Homo sapiens: one gene and its partners. The protein of the gene in region 2 interacts with the protein of the main gene of each other region in a pairwise test. Each region holds a gene or a part of one and is shown on either strand. Other genes may lie near its edges.

What was found. The genes of interacting proteins can lie anywhere in the genome.
Region 1: the proteins of CASP6 (region 2) and TMEFF2 interact in binary tests that used the Homo sapiens proteins (3 or more experiments, as listed by UniProt).
Region 3: the proteins of CASP6 (region 2) and RHEB interact in binary tests that used the Homo sapiens proteins (3 or more experiments, as listed by UniProt).
Region 4: the proteins of CASP6 (region 2) and LIPT1 interact in binary tests that used the Homo sapiens proteins (3 or more experiments, as listed by UniProt).

The regions. Positions count from the first base shown.
Region 1 is NC_000002.12:192,184,934-192,188,433, reverse strand, and holds part of TMEFF2 (tomoregulin-2 isoform 1 precursor), read left to right. Parts: intron 1-3,500. UniProt on the Homo sapiens protein: May be a survival factor for hippocampal and mesencephalic neurons. The shedded form up-regulates cancer cell proliferation, probably by promoting ERK1/2 phosphorylation.
Region 2 is NC_000004.12:109,693,446-109,696,945, forward strand, and holds part of CASP6 (caspase-6 isoform alpha precursor), read right to left. Parts: intron 3,042-3,500; coding exon 2,965-3,041; intron 1,256-2,964; coding exon 1,080-1,255; intron 1-1,079.
Region 3 is NC_000007.14:151,474,896-151,478,395, forward strand, and holds part of RHEB (GTP-binding protein Rheb), read right to left. Parts: intron 2,521-3,500; coding exon 2,438-2,520; intron 1-2,437. UniProt on the Homo sapiens protein: Small GTPase that acts as an allosteric activator of the canonical mTORC1 complex, an evolutionarily conserved central nutrient sensor that stimulates anabolic reactions and macromolecule biosynthesis to promote cellular biomass generation and growth.
Region 4 is NC_000002.12:99,157,967-99,160,801, reverse strand, and holds part of LIPT1 (lipoyl amidotransferase LIPT1, mitochondrial precursor), read right to left. Parts: intron 2,506-2,835; exon of another isoform or gene 2,390-2,505; intron 1-2,389. UniProt on the Homo sapiens protein: Lipoyl amidotransferase that catalyzes the transfer of lipoyl moieties from lipoyl-protein H of the glycine cleavage system (lipoyl-GCSH) to E2 subunits of the pyruvate dehydrogenase complex (PDCE2).

The sequences.
Region 1 (3,500 bases), on a different chromosome or scaffold from region 2:
TGAGGGTTCTCACTCATATGTCTGACTGTCAGCTGAAGACCTTGGTTCTTCTCCATGTTGATCTCTTTGCACGGGCAAGTTTTGTCTTCCTCATAGCATAGTGGCTGAGTTTCAAAGTCAAGCATCCAGAGAGAAAGAAAGAGCCAGGTAGAAGCTATATCCGTTAATGACCTAGCCTGGGAAGGCACACAGAGTCATTTCCACCATAGTCACAGGCCTGTCCGCTCTTAAAATCATAATTTTTTTACATTTAAGGAAATATAAATCACAGAAAAGTAAAAATTACTTATGGAATGGCCAAAGGATTGGAACATATGCAGATTTTTTTAATCTTTTTTCCCTTTTGGAAGAAAAATATACCATATCCCAAGCCATTCTTCTTAAGCCTTTGACAACTGGGAATATAACAGAATTGACTTAACATCTGTTGAGCACCTTCTACATGCCAGACTCTGTGGAAGGTGCTGGCAATATATAAAACATAAGTCATACATAAGCTTCTAGATGCTGAAATCTCAGCTCAAAAAACCTGTATTAATCAAACAAGCAATAAATCCCATGAAAAACTTCTCACATAATGTTTATTAATTTGTAGCAAAAATGAATTTCATGCATTCTAGTGTGCCAAGTAATTGAATCCACTAGTGTGGTGGGTAGCCCATTTTGGAACAGAATTCTTCTACTGAAAAACACTTATTTGGAAAATAAACATAAGATTTTTAAAACATAGAAAAATAGAATCACTTTCTCCCCTGAGAGGAAGTTTGTACAACACATACGTTTATGGACCTAACCATCTGAACTTGAGTCTTGTTTTTCCTCTTACCAGGCAACTGTGTGGTCTTTAGCAGGTCACTTAACATCTGAGTCCGTCCCTTCATCTGAAACTGAGCAGTATCATGAATACTACTAAAAACTATTTCCAATAATTTGGCATATTTTAATGCAGTAGTTAGGCTATTTCATGCTTAGGGTTAGCCTGTTTCCTCTTGTTTTTCTAATTCTAGAAACACCATGGCTTGATGTTAGAGTTAGATGATAACTCTACTAGTTAAAATACATATCATACAAAGCAAATAATTTACATGTCTTTGTATAAGTGAGTATTACAAGATATTTCTTGTTTTAAAAACATGACTTTGTTAATTTCCCAAAAGTTCCAGGTAAGCATTTCAAATGGGAAAACTAGGCTATAAACCTGTTAAATATTTCATTGTTAACTAATATACAAAAGGTCCTACACCAAGACAGTGAAAGAGATAGGACAACTTAGGACTAGACTCCCACTCGTGAGCTTTCATGATTTACAGCGTGCTTCCTTCTGGTGTTCTTCATATTAATAAGTGCAAGTCTTGATACTAAGGGCCAAAAACATCATGCCAGTAATCTACAGTTAAGCTCTTTTCAGCTCTGTAGAAATCTCCCTTTTGGCTTGTGCATGGAACTTGGCAGCTCTGTTTTTAGAACTGTTCGAATTTGGCTTACTGCATCCCTCAGAAGCGGCATATGAGCACTTTATCAGTTTATTCGATATTTTAAGATGCATATCAGCATTGTGTACTAGCACTTGGGAGAGATAATAAATACTTTCCACTCTCCACTCCCAGTTCACTGACTTTATATTTGAGTAATCTGAGAAGGATAAATAAATAAAATTTAAGGATCGGAGAGAAGAAAACACGGACCCAAATAATCTACATACAAAGTATTATAAGCAGGGATGGAGATGGAGATTGAAAGGTAGCCCGGGGCAAGAATACCAGGCCTCAAGCATGAGATGTTAACTAGTCCAGCTAGCCATAGACACATTATGACTCTCTTCTGTCTACTGAAAGGATCGGCAAGTCTATCGATCATTATGTCACCAGCTGTTTCCTTCTTTCTTGTCTCTCCTCCACGTGCTCAGACACCACTGTAGTGTTCATAGATCAACATAATCCTACCTACATTCTCCTGTCCCTGGTTCTGATCATAGCACATTTATCAAGCACCTATCCCTGCACTTGCCTTGCTGGCCACAGTTCTGGCATGAGCACAAGCCACATTTATTTGTGGTCTCTTCCGTACTACTCATTGGAAAATTCAAATCTTACAGGCATTTTGCTCCTGCCTTCTTTCTTGGATGGTAGTGGAGATGCTCAGGCCTGTGGTGAGTCAGTTTTCAGATGTAAATTAAAACAAATTTTTGGAAAGCTCCTGGAAAACAGTGCTTACACAGGTATCACCTAATCAGAAGTCAGTTTCTGATTGAGTTAAACATTAGCAAAAGATTAGTGAAAAGCTCTAATCAAATCAGTTTTTTAAATATAATCACATACATAGACTGAGTCTGGGAGACAAAAATGCAACTGTGGAAAAGAATTACTATATAGAGGACTTGCAGAATATCTAGATTATATATTGTAGAAATTAAGATAAAGAATATTTATAAAATATGTGCTAAAGCATCCTGTTAGTAATTATGGTCATCTTAATATGACTGTCATACCATTTGGGTTTACTGTTTGGAAAAAAGTTGATCACAATTACCAAAACATTATATTTAAGTTGTTAATAATATATGAAAAAGTAAAACTTATAGAATTAGGCTTTCATTTCAAAGAACATTGACATTTAAATTTGTTATGATAATTAAGCTATTATTATATAAAGGCAAAGAGCAAGAGTTAAATAGTTGATTAGGAATAAGGAGGTTTAGGTATTGTTAGGAAATAGAGTAAAATAATAAATTTCAGGTTTTAATCAATCAGATTATCAACATGTTGAGAGGTGTTTTCTTTTGCATACATTCTTGAGTTGAGGTTTATTTATGATAGGGTTTTAGGTTTGTTATCACATATATTTAAACTTTACTACCCATCTCACTGTATTATTGGTTTATTTTGTATGTATTCTGAACTCACAGCACATCAAAGATTCAAATATATTAATCAAAAGTAAAACATAGAGTTTTTAACATGCATCTGTAAGTATGATTTTCCTTACTTAGTTTCTGGCATAGGTGAGCATATACAGATAATAATCTTGATCATTATATTTTTTATAATTAAACAATGAAGCACATAAGTAGTAGTAATCATGAGATAATCACATCCCTGGTGTAATTAGCAGGCATAGAACAAAGCCAAGTATCATTAATGCCTTAGAGTATGATTATATTATGATGACTATACCCTGTTGGTTGCCTTAATTTTCACTGTAATATGTGTACTTTTTTAATAATGAGGTTTTTTAAAAATGAACTTTTCTCTTTATGGAATATCTATTAATAGACATACTTTGGAATAGTCGGTAAAGTTTACTTATAGTTCAGTAGTTGTTGAAATTTTTCTCTGAGTTCCATAGTTTTGCTTCTCTCTAGACCATATCCACATCAATATACAATAGTCTAAAGAGGTATAAAAATAAGTAAATCAGTATCTTATCTGACTATTTGGAAATTTACAAGGACTAGAATTCAATAAAAATTCAATTAAATTCAATTAAAAAAACAACTAAGA
Region 2 (3,500 bases):
GGGAGGCCAAGGCGGGCAGATCACCTGAGGTCAGGAGTTCAAGACCACACTAGCCAACATGGTGAAACCCCATCTCTATGAAAATACAAAAATTAGCCAGCCATGATGGCAGGTGCCTGTAATCCCAGCTACTCGGGAGGCTGAAGTGGGAGAATAATTGAACCTGGGGGCGGAGGTTGCAGTGAGCCGAGATTGCACCATTGCACTCCAGCCTGGGGGACAGAGCGAGACTCCATCTCAAAAAAAAAAAAAAAATCGTTAATGATGTGCCAAGTAATATTCATGCAAAAAAAAAAATTTTTTTTTTTTTTTAGACAGAGTCTCGCTCTGACGCCCAGGCTGGAGTGCAGTGGTATGCTCTCGGCTAACTACAGCCTCTGCCTCCCAGGTTCAAGCAATTCTCATGCCTCAGCTTCCCGAATGGCTGGGATTACAGGCACCTGCCACCATGCCCAGCTAATTTTTGTATTTTTAGTAGAGACAGGGTTTCACCATGTTTGCCAGGCTGGTCTTGAACTCCTCAGGTGATCTGCCTGCCTCGGCCTCCCAAAGTGCTGGGATTACAGGTGTGAGCCATCACGCCTGTAAAAAATACTTTTATCCCTAAAACCAATTTGGCAGCGGGGAAACAATCTTGGTTTAAGGGGCAATGTGAAAGGGATGAGACAGGATAAGACTAGAAGGCTTTATTTTTCCATTCTTTCCACTGGTTTATATGCTCTCCACCTCCCAAAGAAGCAAACCTAGTCTGATGAGGTTGCCTTGTGCGGCACTCTTCAATCAGCAGGTACGCTTTCCAATGGCTCTCCTTGGTATCAGGCTCGGACAGGGAGTAGCACATTGGTTACTTTGTGAGTCACTTCAAATCTCAATCCAAATGCTGTTATTTTGTAATATAGACAATGAGAGTGTCAAAGAATTATTACTAACAGCTCAAAGTGCAACTATGATTGGCCAGAATTCAAAAACGGCCTGTCCAATTACTGGAGAAAGTTACTTTCAAAACTGGCTTTTAGACCTTTATCACATGTTCAGAATGACAGACTTTATAATTAAGATGATAATGTACTCAGTCTTACCTGAATGATAAATATCTTGGGTTTTCCAACCAGGCTGTGACACTTGTCTCCTTTGAACAAGCCAGTTAATGTCTGAATTTCGATTTTAGCATCATATGCATAAATGTGATTGCCTTCGCCATGGCTCAGGAAGACACACACAAAGCAATCGGCATCTGCGTGGCTAACAGTTGACACTATAAAGGACCCAAAAGAGAATATAGAAATGAAAATATGATGCTTGTTATCTACACATAAAAATTCAGTTTATTAACACAAGAATAAAGTTACATCCACATGATTGGGGAGGAGGAAAATTTGTGGTTTTGTCTTTTTTGTTTTTTTGAGACAGAGTTTCACTCTTGGTGCCCAGGGCTGGAGTGCAGTGGCGCGATCTTGGCTCACTGCAACCTCCACCTCCCGGGTTCAAGCGATTCTCCTGCCTCAGCCTCCCAAGTAGCTGGGATTACAGATTTGAAACCATATCCAGCTAATTTTTGTATTTTTAGTAGAGACGGGGTTTTGCCATGTAGCCAGGCTAGTCTCGAACTCCTGACCTCAGGTGATCCACCTCGCCTCAGCCTCCCAAAGTGCTGGGATTACAGGCATGAGCCACCATGCCCGGCCTACTCTTTAATAAGTGTAAAATATCTGTGATGAAACAACTTAGTCTTTAATCAAACAATATACCGTACTGTATCTTATTTTTTTAAAAAAATCCAAATTTATTAAAGTTCAGAGTAATAGAGTTTGACCAAATTTCATTAGCCTTTCTAAAACACAGAATGATGTGGAAAACATAAAGGGATTACGATAGGGAATCTCACTTAAGATCCAAGTTATTTTGGCAATAAACTAAAAATTTCCTTGAATCAGCAGAGACCTTAGAGCAGAGTGGAAAGACCCAGAAACTGCTGCTCAACAGCTCCCCACGCATTGCTGCACTTTCACTATAGGAATACAGCACTTAGGGCCAGGCGCAGTGGCTCACGCCTGGAATCCCAGCATTTTGGGAGGCCGAGGCAGGTGGATCACTTGAGGCCAGTGTTCAAGACCAGCCTGGCCAACACGGTGAAACCCCATCTCTACTAAAAATACAAAAATTAGCTGGGCATGGGGGCGAGCTACCTGGGAAGCTGAGGCAGGAGAATTGCTTGAACCCAGGAGGTGGAGGCTGCAGTGAGCTGAGATCACACCACTGCACTCCAGCCTGGGGCGGACAGCGAGACTCCATCTCAAAAAAAAAAAAAAAAGATTATAGCACTTAGAGCTTCCAAAAGAGTACTCAAAGCCAGGTGCGGTGCCATGAGACTGATGTCCTCCAAAGCTTCTGAGCAAAGTAGAAAAGCTGGTAAAAGCAGCCAAAGTTAGAATGATGTGCAGTTTAAAGAAGAGCTCTGAAGAAAGTTTAAAGTAATTATGCAAATATAATGGTTGGCATGCAGCGATGATTATAATATAGGTTGTTATAATTAGAATACCTACCCCCTATTGACGCTGTGAGAATTAAAGGAGGTAATGTATGTAAACCAACACTATTTGGAAACCAGTGAGAAAATGAGGCATGAAAGGAGTCAATGAGAAAATGAGCCTGTTGACTGCCCAGCACCTGTAGTACTTGCATTTTAGGCTTTTACTGCCAATTGAAGGGGTCATTTCATTCATTTCTACAAGAGACTGTAACTAGTGGTATGCTAAATATAAACTTTAGAGGCATAATTATTTGCAAGGGTCTCTAAATGTGCTGGGTAACGGAAACACAGCAGCATACCCAAAACCTGTAACCTGTGCTAAATTAATACTTTTTTTGTCACACAAGTAATTACTTGTACCTGTCTTTACAGATAGGATAAAGGACTCGGTTTCATTAGAGGAAGATGAACTATATGATAGCAAAACTACCTACCCTCATGAATTTTGAGCAGTAGTTCTTCTGCTTTAAGATCATTAAAGCATTTCACTTCAAATCCTAGATCTGAAAACCTAGTGGTATATTAAATGAAATGTTAGCCTATAAACTTTTCAAAGTTGTCAAATACCCTTACTTTGGAAGAATCTATACACATTTTAACGACACATAAATTTGCTTTCTTTAGGAGAAAAGAAATGAAATATAACAATGGTGGTTTTCCCTTCATTCACCATGGTCGGAAAGGATTTAATCATAATGACAGCCGATTCAATTTAGAGTGTTGTTGTCTACTATGCAAATGTTAGTACAAATGCAAAAGCCTGTCAACATTTAATAGAACAGAGTAAGGAAAATAACTCAGGCAAGTTTTTTTTTTTTTTTTTTTTTTGAGACAGAGGCTCACTCTGTCGCCCAGGCTGGAGTGCAGTGGCTTGATCTTGGCTCACTGCAAGCTCCGCCTCCTGGCTTCATGCCATTCTCCTGCCTCAGCCTCCCGAGTAGCTGGGACTACAGGCTCCCACCACCACGCC
Region 3 (3,500 bases), on a different chromosome or scaffold from region 2:
TATTTGTGTATTCAGCATATAGGTTTCTAAAAAACAAAACACCACTCTTCTCACACTCATGTTTGAGATTTGAGAATGCTCATTAAACTATGAGTTACTGAGGTAAAAGGCATATAACAAAAGAAAACACACCCATTTTAGTAAGGAGAAACTTGGTCAAAACTTGCAACAGTGCCACTGAGAAGACACAGTACCAAGCTTTTTGTCCTCTGCTTTGCACTAGGCCAGTGTTTTCTCAAATACATAAGGTCCTTGGTGAGCACACTTTCATATTTTTAATCCAGCTCAATGTATTTTTCAATTTCCCCAGTGGCACATGCTATGTTTTCAACTTGATTCTATAATGTCATCTAATTTGTGCACACCAAAAAAGAGACTTAAAAAAAATCAGTGGATGCACTAAGAAAATTTTCTACCTACTACTTTAATGCCTCAAAGTAACAATTTGTAAAGTAACACCAACACTGTTTTCTAAAAATCAGCTAGGATAAAATTGTACTTACCAACAACAAAACAATCTTTGAATCATGTTTTTCAAGTAAATTAGTAAAATAATGGAAATTCATAAACAAACATGAACTTCCAACATTCATTAGATTATTGGTACACTAAATTTGTTCTGGACAAGGCCTTACACGTGGCAGTATATACATTTTAAAAATATACAACTGAAATTAAAAAAATCTTTGTATAAAAATGGCCAATAGTTTTACTATTTAAAGTGCTCTTATAAGTCAGTAAGAAAATGATCATGTTTCCAAATACTAAGTACACAGTGGTTTTAAGCATAAAATCCAATCCAAGCATTGCTTTCAGTGACAATATAAATAAATACATTAAACAGGAAGAGAGATATCCATCTATCATTGAACATGAAATATTATAAAGCCATTTACTATTTCAAATACTAGGTAATATGGAAAAATATATATTACATGGTAAGTAAAAATATAAAAACATGGAAAATATAAACCATAAAACAGCATTCAGAGAGCAAATAAAAGGATGTTAAAACAATCCATGCAGACTAAAACAAAGACCAGAAAAAACATATACCAAGATATTAACAGTATCTATGCTTAGGTAATTAGATTAAGAATGATTACCCTCACTTTCTATTTTTCACAGTTCCTCAATTTTCCTTAAGGAACACATAATTCTGGTACTTGGTTTTGATTCAGGTGTAAACTTTCTCGGGGATTGACAGTATGGGGTCTGTTTATAAGAATGGCCGAGAATGGTACTCAAACATTTTATAGCTAGAACTCAACACCCTAAAGTATGTTTCTCTGCCACGGAGAAAAATGTTAAACAACACACTCACAGAGCAGCAGACTGAATTTTCACTGGCAGTGGAGTATGTGGGGGTAAGGAACCCAGACACTGGCCAACATGGCAGCCTCCAGCCACATGTGGCTACTGAGCACCTGAAATGGGGCTACTGTAACCGAGGGAGGCTTAATTTTCCATTTTTAGTTAAACAGCCACCTGCAGCACAGAGAGCAAACACTTCTATCACCGCAGTAAGTTCTATTGGACAGTGTCAGCCTTGACTGTGGAACTGGAGAGATGGCTATGAATCCCAGCAATGTCATTATGTAGCCCTGGGCAAGCTGCTTTAGGTCTCTGTCACTCAGTTTCTTTCCACGTAAAGTGGGATATAAAACATCTCTGATGAAGGATTAAGGTAATGATGAAATAAGTAATGTATCATATGTAGGCAAAGAGAGTAGCAAACTCCCTAACATGTCGCACACACTCAATAGATGCTACGTAGCCACCAAACGCCCTCCACTGGCACTGATATTTTCATAAAGTCTTCAAACATAAGCTGTCACCAATGCCCAGAGCTCCGCTGCTGTATACAGCCAGCTGTTCTGTTAACAGACACAGACCACTGCTCCTCCTGATAATACATGCCATCCCCCGATAAGAGGAGACATGAAATACGTAGCTAGAGGAACCGATATCCATTCTTATTAATAAAAATAGTGGCTTTGTTTTTATGTAGTAAAGTCAGACTCTATTACCAAAAGGTCTTATTTCATAAATTCAAAGGATAAGATATTGAACAAACCCAAACCCCCACATTTTATTAGAAAGTCTATTTCACCTTAATATGGTAAAAACACACACAAAGTAAAATTAATTTAGGCATTTCCCATTTCAATTAGCAGAAAAGCTTAGATCATGCTGAACCACTGTTTTTCTAGGTAGCTTGAGGTAAGAAAGAGCCTTTTATCCTATTGGTGTAACTAACAGAACATCTAGTGGGCCATGTTTCCCAGCAATCCAGTTGCTCCACGAGAAAATCACTAAAAAACATGTAGCCTAATAATTCTAATTGTCACTATTAATAATTCCAGCACAGTCCCTTAAAAGGATCAATGTTATCTATGAGTAGCAAATCAACTCAAGCAGGCAGCAGGAGTCTTACCTTTTGATTGATGTAACAGAATACACAAGAATATAGCCATTAATATCTATGGAGTATGTCTGAGGAAAGATAGAATATTCATCCTGTGGGGAAAAAAAATTATCTTTGAGTAGTCTTCATATAGCATCACAAACAAACTTTACCCAAAGTTTTTCATGTATTACCTGAAGAAATCAAAGTAGACGCAGAGTGGATTACAATATTATGCCAGAAACAGCCTACAAAGTGAAGCTTTAAGAATGGCCTGGAGGTGATAATGTGGTTCAAGCCAATATTTAAAAATGACTAGCTGTTCTAGAACTTTAGGGGAAAGTCTGATGACCTTCATAATTTCTGGGAGAAGAGGATGGATGGAACACAAAAATCATTGGCTCTGTGATCTCAAAACAAGGGATGAGCATCACTAACTCCAGAACCTTCTAGACCTCAGGACATTTATAAATCCTGCTGATTTATCCCATAAATCTGTATTTTTATATTTGAAACTGGCATATTATTTGATTTATTCTCTGCATGTCAGTCACAATGACCTGAGCTTCAGTCTACAGGTTGCTAGAGGGGTGCCATCAGCATCTGAAGGAGAGAGGGAGAGAGGGAGGGAGGTGGGGGAGAGAGAGAGAAACAGAGAAAGAGAAAAGAGGATCAAAACACCAGGTTCAATTGAGGTATTCAGACTTTTGGGGACCAAGAGAGTTATTTACTGAGCAACTCTAGGAATTAAAGAGAAAGGTACCTATTACGCAACAGCACAGTAGTCTTTAGTTTTATAAAGCAGCGTTATGACACTTTGCTTTATATACGTATTAAAGCATACAGAAAGTTCTGATGTCAGTGCAGTTTTCAACAGCACGCGCCACTGTCTGGTACGAACGTTTCATTCTTAGTTGAAACTAAATTGTCAACATAACACATGTCCTAAGCACTATTATGGAAAAATCACATCATGGTACCAGAAGATTAAGCAGCAGTCTATTATTTTTGTAAACTTATAGTATGGTTATAACCACTGTTTATGACAGCCCAGAATTACTGCCCTATGGTAAAGTTCTTTAAAGAAAAAAAA
Region 4 (2,835 bases), on a different chromosome or scaffold from region 2:
CCTGTTTGACTTTGGGATATATGATTTACTGGCAGCATAACTTTTATTTAGATCAATATTAACTTAGGATGAACCCTTGAGGTCAGAGAGAGAGGCAACTGGGAGTATGCAGGTTTATATACAAAGGCTAAGAATAAATTCACTATGTTTGGATGCTTTCCACATTATTCATGTTACCATTGCTAATGAAATATTAGGCAGCAAAAGGTTGAAAATACTAGCTATGAAAATGAAGTATTTTGATTACTTATGGTCTTAAATCATTCTATTCCAATTCTATTTCTTAGAATATAATTTTCCTTCAGGTTGAAGAACTGGGAATAGAATGGATTATTAAAGTGTATAACTTGAGGTTAAGAGTTTGGTTCTAAATAAAGAAAGTTCATAACTAGGTAGCTAGGCTTTTTTATTTTTTATTTTTAAGACAGGGTATCACTCTGTAATTGTCTCACTGCAGCCTCGACCTCCTGGGCTCAAGCAATCTCCACATCTCAGCCTCTGAAGCAGCTGGGACTACAGGTATGCGCCACCATGCCTGGCTAATTTTTAAATTTTTTGTAGAGATGGGGGTCTCCCTACGTTGCCTAGGTTGATCTTGAACTCCTGGGCTTCAGTGATCCTCCTGCCTCAGCCTCCCAAAGTGCTGGGATTATAGGCATGGGCCACTACACCTGGCCCCAAATCATTTAGTTAAGTAATATCTTAGAAGTACAATTCTAGATTAAAGAGTCTTCATATTTTCATCACTCTTGTTGTAGTTTATAAACTAACCTACAAAAAGTTGAATCAGTTTACATTCTGTCTAGAAAGGTGTGGAGAGGTTTAATAGAGGAAGGAATACTTGAACTGAGTCACCAAATCTGATAAGTTTGCCAGGTCGAGGAGCATATTCCAGGCATATGCAAAGACAAAGAGTCATCTAATAGTAAGGTATGTTTGGGGATTCCCTCCTAAGAGAAAGAGTTACACTACTAGTCTTCGACTTCCACTTAAGCCTATGGCTATACTGTCCTAGGAAGCCTCGCAACCGAGACTGCATTACTTTGGTTAACCTCTTTGTTCTTGGTTCTGCTTGACTGACTTTGACACAGTACCATATTCATTCAACAAGTATTTATGGAGTTCCTACTAGGTACAAGGTAATAAGGAGATAGAAAATGGGAGGAGATAAATTCATGTAATGAACCAAAATATTTGGACTTTTTAAAAGGCAGCTAAGATCCACTGAAGTGTTAAGCAGGAAGTGTTAACTCAGCTGTTATACGAATCTGCCTCTGCAGGGTTGAGTATGGATTAAATAAAGGATGGACTAGGGACAGGGGGAACAGTTAATGGACTAAGGCAGTTGTCCATGCTAGAGATAATGAGGGCCTAAAGTACGGTAGGAGAGAGAGAGAGAGAGAAGGGGATGGATATGAGTGACATTAAGAAGGTGAACTGGCCGGGCGCAGTGGCTCATGCCTGTAATCCCAGGACTCTGGGAGGCCGAGGCAGGCGGATCACGAGGTCAGGAGATCGAGACCATCCTGGCTAACACAGTGAAACCCCGTCTCTACTAAAAATACAAAAAATTAGCCGGGCATGGTGGCAGGTGCCTGTAGTACCAGCAGCTCTGGGAGGCCGAGGCAGGCGGATCACGAGGTCAGGAGATTGAGACCATCCTGGCTAACACAGTGAAACCCCGTCTCTACTAAAAATACAAAAAATTAGCCGGGCATGGTGGCGGGCGCCTGTAGTCCCAGCAGCTCTGGAGGCTGAGGCAGAAGAGTGGTGTGAACCCGGGAGGCGGAGCTTGCAGTGAGCCGAGATCGTGCCACTACACTCCAGCCTGGGCGACAGAGCAAGACTCCGTCTAAAAGAAAAAAAAAGAAAAGAAGGTGAACCTGTCCTTGCCTTCAAGAAACAAGTACCTCCACAATCTAGTGGGAGATACTAAAAAACAAGTAAGGCAATAATTAAAATACAGTGTCCTAAATGCTGTGATAGGTGTTAAGTACAGTAGAGCGCCATCTAATGCTCTAATTAGTGGATGTGACATTGAAGCTGAGACATAAAAGGGATAAAGAAAAGAATTCTAACAATGTGCAACAGCTTAGTGGAAAAGGAGATAGGACCCATGCAAATAATTTAATTCTACTGGCTGGTTATTAGGAATACAAGAATGGGGAGTTAATAAGAAGGCAAGAGAAGTAGATGTTAGATTATAAAGAACCTTAAATCCAAGTGAAATGCTTGAACTTTATTGCCCAGGATGGAGTGCAGTGGTGTGATCACGGCTCACTGCAGCCCCGACCTCCTGGGCTCAAGCAATCCTCCCCCTTTAGCCAGCATGTGCCACCACGCCTGGCTATTTTTTTTTTTTTTTTTTTTTTGTAGAGATGAATCTCACTTTGTTGTCCAGGCTGGTCTCAAACTCCTGGGCTCAAGCAGTCCTCCTGCCTTGGCCTCCTAAAGCACTCGGATTACAGGCATGAAGGCTTTGGATTTATACTTCAGGGACACCGCCTAGAGATTTTAAGCATGGAGAATGTACAATACTTGGCAATAGGTTGAATTAGGGTGAGAGAAAGAGAAGTCAAGCATCATGTCCTTTATGATATAATGATTACAAGCTCAAACCAGAGTGCCCTCATTCAAATCCCAACTCTATCCTTTATCAGTTGAATGACCTAAGGCAGATTACTTTTCTATGTCTCAGATTTGTTATCTAATATGTGGATAATGACAGGACTCATCTCATATTATCAGGCTGAGTCTGATGAGCTAATACATATAAAGTGGTTAGAAGAGTGCCTGGCACTGAAGAAAGTACACAATATGTGCTAACTATTTTAT